2 linked regions of the Homo sapiens genome follow. The protein of the gene in region 1 purifies or fractionates together with the protein of each later gene. This does not show direct contact. Each region holds a gene or a part of one and is shown on either strand. Other genes may lie near its edges.

Region 1 (3,659 bases):
AACAACAACAACTATATATATATATATGCAAAGAACTCTTAGAATTCAACAATAAGAGAATTAAGAACCCAATTAAATAATGGGCAAAGGATATGAACAGACACCTCACCAAAAAGATACACAGATGGCAAATAACCATATGAAAAGATGTTCAACATCAGATGCCATTAGGGAATTGCAAATTAAAACAATAAAATACCACCATACACCTATTAGAATGGTCAAAATAAAAAAAAACTAACAATACCAAATGCTGGGAAAGATAAGGATAACAGGAATACTTTTTCATTTCTGGTGAATGCAAAACGGTAAGCCACTTTGGGAGACAGTATGGCAGTTTCTCATAAAACTACACATAGTCACACTCCGGCAGTCATATTCCTAGGTTATTTACACAATTGGGTTGAAAACTTATGTTCATACAAAAACCTGCACACAAATGTTTATAGCGGCTTTATTTTTAATCACTGAAAACTGGAAGCAATCAAGATTTCCTTTAATGGGCGAATGGATAAACATACTATGCTATATCCATACAATGAACATTATTCAGCAATAAAAAATGAGCTATCAAGTCACAAAAAGACATGGAGGAACCTTAAATGCATATTGCTAAGTGAAAGAAGCCAGTCTAAAAAGTCTACATACTGCATAACTCCAACCAACTACATGACATTTTGGAAAAGGCAAAACTGTAGAGACAGTAAAAAGATCAGTGGTTGCCAGGGCACGGCGGGAGGGATAAATAAGTGAAGCACAGGATTTTGAGGGTGGTGAAACTATTCTGTATGAGACTGCAATGGTGCACACATGCCATTATGAATTTGTCAAAACCCACATAACCTTACAACACAATGAATCTTAATGTGAACTATGGGCTATAATTAATAATAAATTAATATTGGTTCATCATTTGTAACAAATGTGCCACACTAATGCACCATCTTAATAATAGGAGAAATTGTGTAAGGAGGAATGAGGGTATGGGGTGCAGTGGGTGTATGGAACTCTATATATTATCTGCTCTATTATTCTGTAAACCTAAACCTATACTTTAAAAAATACAGTATATTAATTTATCTTAAAAAATAAAATCATAGGGACCAAAATAAATAACTTTTTTGGTTCTAATACAAAGATAATATACACGCCTTTATATCACACAAGAGTGATTCCAAACAAATAAATATATGGAGAGTATACAATTTTTATTTTATTATACTTTGATACTCTTCTTGACCTTACTATACTCTTAGGTACACAGCAACATACCGTTTGTAAACAATAAAACATTTCATTAAAAATAATCCATTAAAACTTCAAGTTTCCTTTGTACACTAGAGATACTGGATTAAATGCCTTCTTAGAAATGCCATGTTAACCATTTATTTTAAAGTTTCCAAAATGCATGTTTTCCAGTGGTTTGGTCTTACTGATTTTACTTAATGGAACTATCTATGATGCTCTGGGATGTGAAAATCATCTTATGTCCCCGACTTCCACAAGTAAGTAACAATGCTTTCACCTCTAATCTTCATATTGCTGATTTTTGTTTGAAGTTTGTGGGCAAGATTTAGCTCCATAGGTAAGGACGGAAACGCAGGTCTGACAAGTTACATTAACATCAGGACTAAAAGTCGCAGGACTACAAACCACTGCAGAGGAAAACACAGGGAGTAATTATAATTTAGAGATATTTTATGCCTCTACTACTTGGAGGTATTCTATACCAACAATATAAATCTGCCTTTAATATCATACCATTTCAGTACCTATATTATACCAGGTAATGTTCAGCCCATTTAAGTTGTGGAAGATTATGTGAGTTTCAAACTTTATAATTTGATGATCTTAAAGATAGGAGAAAGTGAGAATCCTATTTTTTCTTTTACTATCAGCATTTTACAGTATCTTCTGCAGTGCCCCATTTATGAGTTCCTATTTCTAGTTTTCTAGTTCCTATTTCCTAGTTCTCTGCTTTCCAGGTAGGACCATTCTGTTTTCCTTCATTGTACAGTAGCTTAAGACAGAACATTATAGAAATGTTTATAATACAAGAGAGTACATCAGGAAGAGTTAATATACATTAAAATAACTATATTTAGAAATTTGGGCTTTGGCTGGGCGCAGTGGCTCATGCCTGTAATCCCAGCACTTTGGGAGGCCAAGGCGGGCAGATTGCTTGAGCCCAGGAATTCCAAGACCAGTCTGGGCAACAGGGCGAAACTCTGTCTCTACTAAAAATACAAAAATTAGTCAGTAAAAATACAAAAATTACAGATTGCACACCTGTAATCCTGGCTACTCAGGAGGCTGAGGTTGAAGGATGGTTTGAGCTTGGGAGGCAGAGTTGCCATAAGCTGAGACTGCGCCACACTGCACACTGCACTGCAGCCTGGGTAACAGAGCCAGACTCCATCTCAAAAAAAAAAAAAAAAAAAAAAAAAAAAAAAGGGGCCAAGCATGGTAGCCCACACCTATAATCCCAGCACTTTCGGAAGCCAAGGCAGACGGATCCTTTGAGGTCAGGAGTTCAGTCGAGACCAGCCTGGCCAACATGGTGAAACTCTGTCTCTACTTTTTACAAAAATTAGCCAGCTGTGGTAGCTACTGGGGAGGCTGAGGCAGAAGAATCACTTGAACCCTGGAGACGAAGGTTGTGGTGAGCTCAGATGACGCCACTGCACTCCAGCATGGGTGAAAGAGTGAGACTCTATCTCAAAAAAAACAAAAAAAAAAAAAATTGGGGCTTTGAATTTTTACTTCCTTTTAGCTAAATATATATATATTTTTTGGTAAGAGAATCACTGTAAAGATTCTATTCAGTTATGCCAAGTGAATTACTTATATATTCTTCTGACTCTATAACCTAAATGTTTAGATATTTATATTTTATAGTTACCACAACAGCTAGCGCAATTACTGTGTAGACGTTCATTTTTTCCAAAGCCTGGTCGACAGCTATCCAGACGTACTACTTGCAAACTGTGGTCCACAAAATGCATTGCTGGTAGAGTTTTATTAAAGTTATGGTAGAAAATATATGCTTGGCTCCGAAAAAAGTCTTCTATTCGATCTCTTGCCTAAGGTTGAAAAATACCAGAGAAAGGTACAATTACTAAACCATGAACCAAATTTATCCTCCAGTATCACAGGCAATAATGTACTGTAAGCATGCCATACTTAACGTAGATAAATTCCTGAAAAGGTGTGTGTTAACACCAAAATTAGTTAGCTTTGACCTTATCAACTGTTGTCAATTAATATGTGCAATGGTTAAGAAAAATTGGCTGGGAGCGGTGGCTCATGCCTGTAAACCCAGCACTTTGGGAGGCCAAGGCGGGCAGATCGCGAGGTCAAGAGTTCGAGACCATCCTGGCCAACATGGTAAAACTCCATCTCTATTAAAAATACAAAAATTAGCTAGGTGTGGTGGCATGTGCCTGTAGTCTCAGCTACTCAGGAGGCTGAGGCAGGAGAATTGCTTGAACCTCGGAGGCGGAGGTTGCAGTGAGCCGAGATCGTGCCACTGCACTCCAGCCTGGCGACAGAGCGAGACCCCGTCTCAGAAAAAATAAATAAATAAAAATTAAAATTAAGATTAGGCTGGGCGTGGTGGCTCACGCCTGTGATCCCAGCACTTTGGGAGGCAGAGGTGG
Region 2 (3,659 bases), on another chromosome or scaffold:
GCCACTTTTTTTCACATATAGGCAGAACAACAGAAGAAGACAGGATGTCTTGTTCTGGTCCACCACTAATGGTGAATTACCTCTAGCAAATCTCTTCATCTCTCTCTCTCATCTTTTCCATTAAAAGGGGAAAGAGTATGGAATGATACATGGCCTGCCTATTTCATTGGTCTATTATAAGTATCAGACATATGAATACTTATGAAAATATATGGAAAAGTTATGAAGTACTCTACACAATAAATAATTCTCTTTTATTAGCACGGATAACTGACTTGTCTAAATATCTACTGTAGCTCCCCAAAAGTGATAATATATTTTAGAGCAAATGATTCCTAAAATATATTAAAGAATAAACAGGGCAGGATATGGAATGACAAATACAATAAAAATGGCTTTTTCCTAATTTTTGATAGAAAAATATTTAAAAAATAAACTTCTCCAGCAGTAACTACAGTATATAAAGTGCAGATTCAAGGATATTATGGTGAATATCTACAGTTATCTAGACTCTAAGATACTTCAGATATTCCTCAGCTATTTCAATACCACAAGGATAATCCAGGATGACTTATCAATATCACACATGTCAATAGCAGGTTGTGATGTAAATGAGCAAATTCTTTCCAACCATCTCAGTTCAGTTTTATTATAGCATTTATTAAACCAAAATAAAAACATGGTGAAGAATGATTTGTCACACCATTTATTAGAGTTGATGGAGTGTAGACAGTCTTTTCAATAAGGCTTTAACACACTGTTATGCACCATAGTGCATTAGTAATGAAAAGAAATGCATGAGACTTACATCAGCCTTTCCCCCAAGTCATTCTGACATTAAATTCAAAATCAATTTTACCCTATATGGCAAGAGTTCAGAAATAAATGTTAATTTCTTTGCTGTTCACCAAAACTTAAGTTTATAATTCAAAGTAACAACAGAAATCCTTCCTATTCTACTTAATTTAATAATCATACTTTTTTTGGAGAAGGGTTCAAAGTGGGAAGCAAATGCAACCAGAAGTTAAAAAATTGTGTTTCAGTTTGTATCTGACAAAAGGATGGGATCTAATTTTCTCTCTGATTAAAAGAACACAAAGAACAGCCACAGAATGTAAATCGTGTGTTGAGTGTTTGAATTTCTCTTCCAATACCTGAGTATCTGAATAGAACTAATTCACTCTGGAAAAGGTATTAAATAATTGAGCATCATTGTGCCCGAATGAGGGCTAATTGTCAAACGTTGAAGAAAAATAAACATATTCTACAATGATAGGGTCAACTCACTCACTCAGGAACTTCAATCAAGCATTTTACATTCAAATGACAGAAACCAAGTATGTAAAGAATGACCTACCGCCAACAAGGAATCCTGATAGACACAAGCACCTGTGGGGAAAAACAAAACAAGAATTAAAAGGGATGCATAATAAACCAATAGGCACTGCCCCAGCAAGCTTGCTGCTAAAACTGCATCTATATGCATCATAACCAGGAAAATGAGCTTCTTCCAAAATCTTAAAAGCTTCAGCATTCTTCCCCTGGGGAAATAACCCCATACACCAAAACAACATTCCTTGGACACACATGAGGAAAAGCATCATTAAAACTTATGACTTGAATTTTAAGATAAATGTGTTTATAACGACATGCTATAAATACAGTAAATATTTTTCTTGGTGATAAGTCAGCAAAGCCTCCATAATCCAGTCCCATTTACTTATCCAGGCTTCCCTGCCACTGTTTGCTTACACTAAGCCTCCAGTCCAACCCAAGAGGCCAACTTAGAATCCTGTAATATATTTACATGTCTCAATGCCTTTGCTCATTTTCATTTTCTACAGGAGATGTACTTTGTCTAGTCAAGCTCTTTGAACTTGATCCCATCTCCTTTGTGAAACTTCTGCCCACCAGATTATGCTCCTCTGAGCTCCTAGCATTTTGTGCCTACATCCTCCATTTGTGAATTTATTCTTGTGTATTTCCTTTCTAAGGATGTTGAAATGTTGTATTTACCCCACTACATTATATATATGTGTGTGTGTACTACATATAGAGAGAATATATACACTATATATACCATTACATATATACTATTACATATATAGTATATACATATATATACACATGTATACCCACTATATACTATATACCATATATAGTACATATATAGTATATACACATATATACACATATATATACATATATACCCACTATATACTATATATAGTATATATATAATATATAGTATAAATAGCATATGTAGTATTTAGTGTGTGTGTGTGTATGTATATATATATATATATATATATATACACTATAAAACTGAAATCTTAACTTAAAAAAAATATAGACACATTCCCAACCAATTTTTGAGCTGCACAACAGGTCTTGATTTAACTTAGAAAGAGATGGGCAGTGTGCTGTCACCTACTCTCTCAGAAACTGAGTCTGCAAAACACATTTGAACAGTATATACACACCAAGGTGAAGCATATCTTAACAATGCTCCACACAGTTGGTTTCTAAAGAGAGAAGGACATTATTTTACCACAGTGCTTACCTCTAATGGATCATTTATGAAGTCCCAATAATATTAACTTCTCAGGAAAGAATTGGTCTACCTTCTCCTCCAGTAATGGAATTAAGAACAATCTTTAAAAAAACTGAGATGACTATTTACACTTAGGTTTGAATCAAAGATCTCTGTGGGCAAATTTATTGAAATAATTTTTATGTCCCTGATATTCTTTTTTTTTTTCTTGGTATACAACAATTTTATTGGTGTTTTAATATAATTCACCCAGAATATGAAGGCATCACATTAGCTAAGTACAAGGCATATGTATAAGCAAAAATTATAAATTTATGACACCCTTGTGCCTTTCTCCTAATGACATTTCCAACTTTTAATGGTTTGTATTTCTTCCTCTGCAGACATAGGATAATTAATATAAATATGTCATTTTTGAGTTTATATTTTACACAAACTTATTATTTTACTTTAAAATAGTTTCTAGCCATGGCATTAATATTTATTAAAATTTCTGTACATATGAAAAAAGGAATTTATTTCTATACATATGAAAGAAAGGAATAGGGAGTGTCTATAAATGAATGATTTTATAGACACTCCCTATTTTTTTATTTTATTTATTTATTTATTTTTATTATTATTCTTTAAGTTCTAATAAGAATAACTTGAGATAAAACCTTGAAGGAAAATTCTTCTTAATTGACTACTTTTTCCTTAAGAAATCTTGTTCCAAGACTTAGTAGTTCAGTCTATGGTATGTTATAAGAAAGGAAATATATATATGTGTACATATGTATGTGTGTGATGTGTGTACTAAAATAATTCTATATATCTCAAATAAATACATATGAACACAATTCACTTTCTAAATTACTTATATGGACATATTTAATTATTTCTGGTGTTTAGAAAATTTAGAATAAAGATCATCATCACTTAGGTACAATTTAACAAAATTTAAACTTTAGATTAAACAAAACTTAACTTTTAGAAAAAACACAAACAAAATTTAATCTTTAAAATAAGACTATCCTCAAATAATTTTATTGCTCTCCACAGCATTACCTTCCAAAGTCAATTTCTTTTCAAAGCTCCAAAGGAAATCAAGCACCTTAAGAAGTAT

The links. Proteins that work in one complex are often made in the same cells at the same time.
Region 2: the proteins of ZPBP2 (region 1) and FRAS1 purify together in Homo sapiens (affinity purification with mass spectrometry, with the first as the bait; one large-scale study listed by BioGRID). This does not show direct contact.

The regions. Positions count from the first base shown.
Region 1 is NC_000017.11:39,874,678-39,878,336, reverse strand, and holds the end of ZPBP2 (zona pellucida-binding protein 2 isoform 2 precursor), read right to left. Parts: intron 3,084-3,659; coding exon 2,903-3,083; intron 1,656-2,902; coding exon 1,528-1,655; 3' UTR 441-1,527; downstream 1-440.
Region 2 is NC_000004.12:78,063,715-78,067,373, reverse strand, and holds part of FRAS1 (extracellular matrix organizing protein FRAS1 isoform 1 precursor), read right to left. Parts: intron 1,390-3,659; coding exon 1,358-1,389; intron 1-1,357. UniProt on the Homo sapiens protein: Involved in extracellular matrix organization. Required for the regulation of epidermal-basement membrane adhesion responsible for proper organogenesis during embryonic development. Involved in brain organization and function.